Homo sapiens: one gene and its partner. The protein of the gene in region 1 purifies or fractionates together with the protein of each later gene. This does not show direct contact. Each region holds a gene or a part of one and is shown on either strand. Other genes may lie near its edges.

The links. The genes of interacting proteins can lie anywhere in the genome.
Region 2: the proteins of VEZT (region 1) and LRFN2 purify together in Homo sapiens (affinity purification with mass spectrometry; one large-scale study listed by BioGRID and IntAct). This does not show direct contact.

What each region holds. Positions count from the first base shown.
Region 1 is NC_000012.12:95,262,761-95,266,367, reverse strand, and holds part of VEZT (vezatin), read right to left. Parts: intron 3,463-3,607; coding exon 3,287-3,462; intron 12-3,286; coding exon 1-11. UniProt on the Homo sapiens protein: Plays a pivotal role in the establishment of adherens junctions and their maintenance in adult life.
Region 2 is NC_000006.12:40,433,845-40,437,451, forward strand, and holds part of LRFN2 (leucine-rich repeat and fibronectin type-III domain-containing protein 2 precursor), read right to left. Parts: intron 1-3,607. UniProt on the Homo sapiens protein: Promotes neurite outgrowth in hippocampal neurons. Enhances the cell surface expression of 2 NMDA receptor subunits GRIN1 and GRIN2A. May play a role in redistributing DLG4 to the cell periphery.

The sequences.
Region 1 (3,607 bases):
TTGAGAGATCCCTGGGAACAAGAAAGGAAGAAAATGATATGCATCAGATTAGAGAAAGAAAGATGAATTACTTTAATCAGTAAAAACAAAATTTAAATTTAGGTTTACTAAATAAATAAAATGCTAGCTTCTTTGTAAAGCATAACTTAAAAATATATGACATTTAAGAAGGTGATGTGAAAGATTTTTAAAATACCTCGCAACTAGACAATAGTGCTTAGGTATTAACATCTGAGCTGATAAATTTAAGTAAGAAAACAGGTATCTTCTGGAATCAGGTAAAGCTGATTTCACAAAAGAAACTCAAATTCTCTGTAGGTGCTGACTGAATGCTGGGCAGAACCAACAAAAGGCCTCTACATTTCCTACATATACAGAATCTGGAGCTAGAAATACCACCCATCGCCTGCAGGATAAAATCAAACTTCATTAGCTCAGTCTACAAAATCCTTCAGAAGTTGGCCCAGAACATGTCTTGAGTCAGATCAGCATCCCAGCCCTCAACTCCAAGCATTGTAAACCAGAACATCTCTTCCTTCTCTTTCCTTTTTGCCTGGTGTCATCTTATATTTAATACCAAAATCCTATGCGTTCAAACCTTCCTCTGACACCAAGTCTTCTGTGAAGATTTTGCCAAAAGCTTGAAATAGTTACTTCTAATTTTAGCCAACCCCTCTTCTGTGACCCCAAAGAAATTGCTACATTTCTCTTTATGACATTAATAAAAATGATAATAAATATAACAATAGGCATCTTCTGAAACCACTTTTAAAAAAATAAAAAATATATGGAATCCTTAACCTAAAAAGCAAATTAGAGATTTTAAAATCCGATTTTATAGATTTAAAAGTAAAAATACTATTTCAGAGATATTATAAATCCCTTTTCCTAAAATCAAACTTTATTTGCATAGAAACACATACTAGATCAAGAATATGTACACATTTTTCCAATTAGAAATGATACACACTTGATGAGTAATTGTTTGAATAAAGTCCTCTAATTTTAAATAATCATCATCAATTTGGAATATACATACTTACCACAGACCATGATATGGACAAGGTTTGTACTTTTATACTACTTTAATTGAAACAAAAATATGTACACATTTTAAAATTCATATCAATTGCAAGTCTAACAGACTAAAATACATCTTTAAAGCAATGAATGCTTTGGTGAAAATGTGTATATATAAGAAAGAGGGGGCCAGGCACAGTGGCCCACGCCTGTAATCTCAGCACTTTGAGAGGCACAGGTGGGAGGACCACTTGAGCCCAGGAGTTCGAGACCAGACTGGGCAACACAGTAGGACCCCTTCTCTACAAAAAATTTAAAAATTAGCTGGGTGTGGTTGCATGCATCCGTAGTCCCTGCTATTCGGAGGCTGAGGCGGAGGGATCACTTGAGCAGGCTGCAGTAAGCCGAGATCATGCCACTGCACTCCAGCCTGGGTGGCAAAGCAGGACCTTGTCTCAAAAAAAAAAAAAAAAAAAAAGAAAAGAAAAGAAAGAGGGGAGTATAAGGGGGATGTGTCTGAGAATAGCTGAAAAACAGCAATATTTGGAAAGAGTTATAATAATCATATTGCAAAGAAAATCACATGCAATTTCTTATTAAATATTTGCCCTGGCCAGGTGCAGGGGCTCGTGCCTGTAATCCCAGCACTTTGGGAGGCTGAGGCAGGCAGATCACTTGAGTTCAGGAATTCAAGACCAGCCTGGGCAACATGGCAAAACCCTGTCTCTGAAAAAAATACAAAAATTAGCCAGGTATGGTGGCATGCTCCTATAGTCCCAGGTATTTGGGAGGCTAGGGCAGGAGGATCACTTGAGTCTAGGAGGCTGAGGCTGCAGTGAGCTGAGGTCACACCACTGTACTCCAGCCTGAGCAACAGAGACCCTGTCTCAAAAAATAAGTAAATAAATAAATATTTGCCCTAATTTCCTTTAGAATCCTTTACTTTTCAGATAATACTGGCAATACCATAAAGCAAAATCTCATCATATACTTTTGTATGTTAATAGTAAACTCTAAAATCATTTATAGGTCTCATAGTTGCTTGATTATATTTGTGGGTAAAGGAAAGTTAGTAAAGTAGTAAATTCTTAAAACCTATGGTTCCTTCTATCAGCTCCTTAAATTCTTGTATTTTTGAAGGATAAGAAGCTTTACTTCTTCATGATCATATCTGAGTGACTGCAGAATGAAGCATTTGTCAGTGTGACAGGGAAGACATAAATACAGAACCTTGAGGCCAATGAATGTAACTGCCTATATAACTTGAACAGTTTGAATAGTGATTTAGTGTACTTCTTGATTCATTCCTCCCTTCTATGTCAAATTTAATAAAGTACTTTAACAGGAAGAAGACATCAATAATTTTTTATATATAATCGCTTTTTGCTACACATTCTTTTTTTTTCTTTTAACAGATTATTGCTTGGGACTTCTGCTCTAGACCCAAATAGTTCAAGAGGTTGAAAAGTTTTAGGATGGTCTGAATGAATCATCAAATCACATTCCCTGTGATCTTTTCTCAGCCAACACAGCCAGAATCAACTGCCTACCTCCATGTCCCATCCTATTCTTGGTGTCTCTACAATATAGTTACGATAAAACCTATTAATTATAAAGAAACACAAAGAAGGTTAGGTTTGCATGCACACATGTGAATAGGTGTATGGGTAAAATAAATTCTTTTTTTTTTCCCCTTAGAGACAGGGTCTCGCTTTGTTGCTCAGGCTGGAGTGCAGTGGTGTGATCACGGCTCACTGCACTCTGCAACTGCTGGGCTCAAGCAATCCTCCCATATCAGTCTCCCAAGGAGCTAGGTCTACAGACATATGCCAACATACCTGAACTCATTTTTTCATGTTTTGTAGAGATGGGATTTTGCTACGTTGCCCAGGCTGGTCTCAAACTCTTGGCCTTAAGCAATCCTACCACCTCAGCCTCCCAAAGTGTTGGGATTACAGGCATGAGCCACTGCACCTGGCAGAGTAACTTTTTGGCACTTGTTATACCCATTTGCTAGGTTGCTGAGCACAGAACTAATTTTAATGAGTTGGAAGTATATAATAACCAAATTGGATTTTTTTCCCTAGCTTCACTTTAAATAGTATTTACTTTAGAAAGGCACTTTTTCCCCCCATATTGTTACTTTAATTGTACTGCTAAATGTATGGAATGTTTATGCCTTTACAATGGAGAGCACAATGATGGGTTTCCTCTGCTAATACTCTGTATGTAAGCAGTCAAAGAATAGGTGTTTTCTGGACAGTACCAAATATTAGGGGTTGCCAGGGAGCAAAGTGTTGGAAGGTGTCCATTTTCCTGTTGTTGAGATTGCCCTGCAGACAGGATACTGGGATCAAGTAGCTCAATCAGCTCCACATCCTCTTGTAACAGGACTTCCTGTTGCAGGATGGTATGTAATGAGTCGAGTCGGAATCCAATATCCTTGCCATTAAAATACCAGAAGAGAGGTATTAACACATATATAATATTGCATTAAACGCTAAGCTCCTAATGTACTAATAAAATTTGGTGGTGTTTATTTTCAGAAGATACTTCAAGAAGAAACAACAGTCCAATCTACCTTCAG
Region 2 (3,607 bases), on another chromosome or scaffold:
ATAAGCAATTAGCCTCTATCTGGACCCTCACATACATCAGCTCTTTTGGGCTTTAGGAATCCCCTTCAGAAGGAAGGGATTATCTATACACAGACGAGGATTGATCATGGCCTCAGAGCCTCCTTTGGATCTTTACTCACAAGTTACCTTCTCCCAGAGGCCTTCCCAGATGCTCTTCCATGATCATCCCTGCCCCGCCCCGCTGCATAGCCCTCTTCTCTGCTCTGTATTTTCTCCTTGCAACTAATCCCTATCTATGTTTTAACTATTTGTCTTCTTTATAATTTGTTCTTTTGCTCTAGCCGTAAAGCCCCAAGAAGAAGGGACCTCTTTTCATTCACCACTGCATGCCCAAAGCCTAAAGCGCTGCCTGGCACATAGTAGGTGCTTTTACAAGAATGGCTATCTAAGAAAGAAAGGAAGAGAAATCTGACTCAAGTCTTTGCGCCTCCAAATGTCAACAGTTTCCTCACTATCCCATGTTGTACTAAATGTGGCCTTATTGATACAGTGCTTCTTGGGGCTTTACTGATAGAGCAAAATGATAGCCAGTTGAGTTGGACTTTTGGAAAATCATGCAGCACACTGATTGTGTAGCATTATGCAGACCAGCATTTCTCAAATTGCCTTTTTTTTTCTTTTTTTTTTTTTTGAGACGGAGTCTCACTCTGTCTCCCAGGGGAGCGCAGTGGCGCAATCTTGGCTCACTGCAACCTCTGCCTCTGTGGTTCCAGTGATTCTCCTGCCTCAGCCTCCCAAATAGCTGGGACTACAGGCACACACCACCATGCCCAGCTAACTTTTTGTATTTTTAGTAGAGACAGGGTTTCACCATGTTGGCTGGGCTGTTCTCAAACTCCTGACCTCAGGTGATCCACCTGCCCCGGCCTCCCAAAGTGCTGGGATTACAAGCGTGAGCCACCGTGCCCAGCCCCTCAAATTGCCTGCTAAACATACTAATTAGAGTTCTGCAAAAATGGCTTCTAAGGCCAGTAAGGTGGGGAAGCATTGCCTACTCTTGCTTTCTCTCACAATAGCTCTGTACGCATGAGCAAGTTTAGAAGAATTGAGAAATTCTGCTGCAGTGAAACACTAAATTAATGTTTAAGTTTGCATTACTCCTATTTCTTTTTACTATAAAGACATCCCTTTCTTGAGCAATGGTTTTACATATATATATATATATATATATATATATATATATATATAGAGAGAGAGAGAGAGAGAGAGAGAGAGAGAGAGAGAGACAGAGAGATAATATATATTATATATTTTATATATATATTATGTATTTTATATATATATATACAGAGAGAGAGAGAGAGAGAGAGAGAGAGACAGATTCTTGCTCTGTCACCCAGGCTGGAGTGCAGTGGCACAATCATAATTCATGACAGCCTGAAACTCCTGGGCTCAAGTGATTCTCCCACCTTGGCCTCCTGAGTAACTACAGGCACTTGCCATCATGCCTGGCTAATTATTTTTATTTTTATTTTTGTAGAGTCAGATTTTGCTATGTTGCCCAGGCTGGTCTCGAACTTCTGGCTTCAAGTGATCCTCCTGCTTCAGCCTCCCCAAATGTTGGATTTACAGGCATGAGCCACCTCGCCTGGCCAATATCTTGTGGAAGTAGAGCTCTATAACTCCCAGTTTGAGGAGCACAGATGCAGAAAAAACTAGCTTATTTTATTTTTTGTTTCCTATTTTTTTTTGAGACGGAGTCTGGCTCTGTCACCCAGGCTGGAGTACAGTGGCATGATCTCAGCTCACTGCAACCTCTGCCTCCCAGGTTCACGCCATTCTCCTGCCTCAGCCTCCCTAGTAGCTGGGACTACAGGTGCCCGCCACCACACCCGGCTAATTTTTTGTGTTTTTAGTAGAGACAGGGTTTCACTGTGTTAGCCAAGATGGTCTCGATCTCCTGACCTTGTGATCCGCCCGTCTTGGCCTCCTGTAATAGCTTATTTTTTTTAAAAAAGATACGTAATATATTGAAAAATCTATTCCTATCATACACTTTATTATGTATATTTGAATTCCATTATTGCGCCTCTTTAAGGGTAAATCTCCTACCTGAGACCCTTCAAGGGCCAGAGGCTTGCCCTGTATTTTTTCTGGAGAGAGCATCACTGTGAAGTAGAAATATGATGTGAGCCAAAAATGTGACTTCAAATTTCCTAGTGGCCATATTTTTTAAAAAAGTAAAAAGAAACAGGTGAAATTAATTTTGATAATGTATTTTATATAACTAGCTATATCAAAATATTATTTCAATATATCCTCAATATAATTATTAATGAGATGGCTAACTTTTTTATTTTACAAACTCTTCAAAATCTGGTGCGTATTTTACCCTCAGAGCACATTTCAAATGCTCATTAGCCATATGTGGCTATTGGCTACCATACTGGGTAGTGCTGTGAACTGTAGCTCACAGACCAAATATATCCTGTCACCTGTTTTTGTAAATAAAATTTTATTAGAACACAGCCATGCTTATTTGTTTACATATCGCATGTGGCTTCCTTTGTGCCACCATGGCAGAGGTGAGCCATTGCTGCATATAACACATGGCACTGAAGCCTAAAATATTTACTATCTTGTCCTTTACAGAAAGAGTTTGCTGACCTCTGTTCTATAGGATATGTGTTTTTTTTTTTCATCTTCATCAAGGGCACCTTCATTAAAAGCCTTGGCCAAAGTGCCGAGTTCCACACAGCTCTGCCCTGGCCTCCCCATGAGCACCTGCCCACCCTGCCAGTCCCTGTTCTCACCAAGCTCCCACCTAAGGTAGACCAGCTTCACCTTACCCAGGCCCCACCAGGTCACAGGTGTTGATACATGGAAGCTTTCCACCTGCCACCTTTCCAACTTGCTCTGTGCTCAAAGGTGTTCTGGCCTTCTTGGTCTCTACTTGCTGGGGCCTCATAGAACAAAATGAGGATCTTCTCCACTTGCATTGAGTCTTGAGTTTTCTAGCTACACCTCCCTGTGACTCATTGTGGTCACAGAATGAAGAAGGCTGACGTTTTTCTGGCTACGGCATCTGCTCAAATATAGTTGAGTGGTATTCTCTATACCCACGAGAGCACATGAACAGCCACAGCCACATCCAAGGATGTCCCTTGCTAATTAATCAAGAGGTGGTTGAGTGTGTGTGTGTGTGTATGTGTATGGGGTAGTGTTCTATGGCCCCATGAGAAAGGCCATCTCTCTTATGAGCTCTTATCAGTAAATGCATCAGTGTTCTAAGGCTAAACAGCACTTCCCAACATTTTCAAGTCCTGGCACACAGGAAATGATATTTGTCAGGTGCCCCTGGGCCCAGGGCCAAGGCTATTCATGGCCTGTGCTGGATATCTTCCACTGTCCCTCCAGATCCTCTCTCCACCCTCTCCCCGCCAGCTCTGCATTCTGGGAGGCTGATCCATATGGACCGCATCTGTGCAATATAGATGGACTGCCTCCGCCATCCTTTGTGCCCTTCTACCCTTGGCTGTGTTGCCTGCCCTCTGGTAGAGACAGCAATGGCAACAGCAAGCAAAGAAGGCCCAGACGCTTCCAGATGCATACCCTGGAGCTCAGAGGCACAGAGCCCATTGTTTCA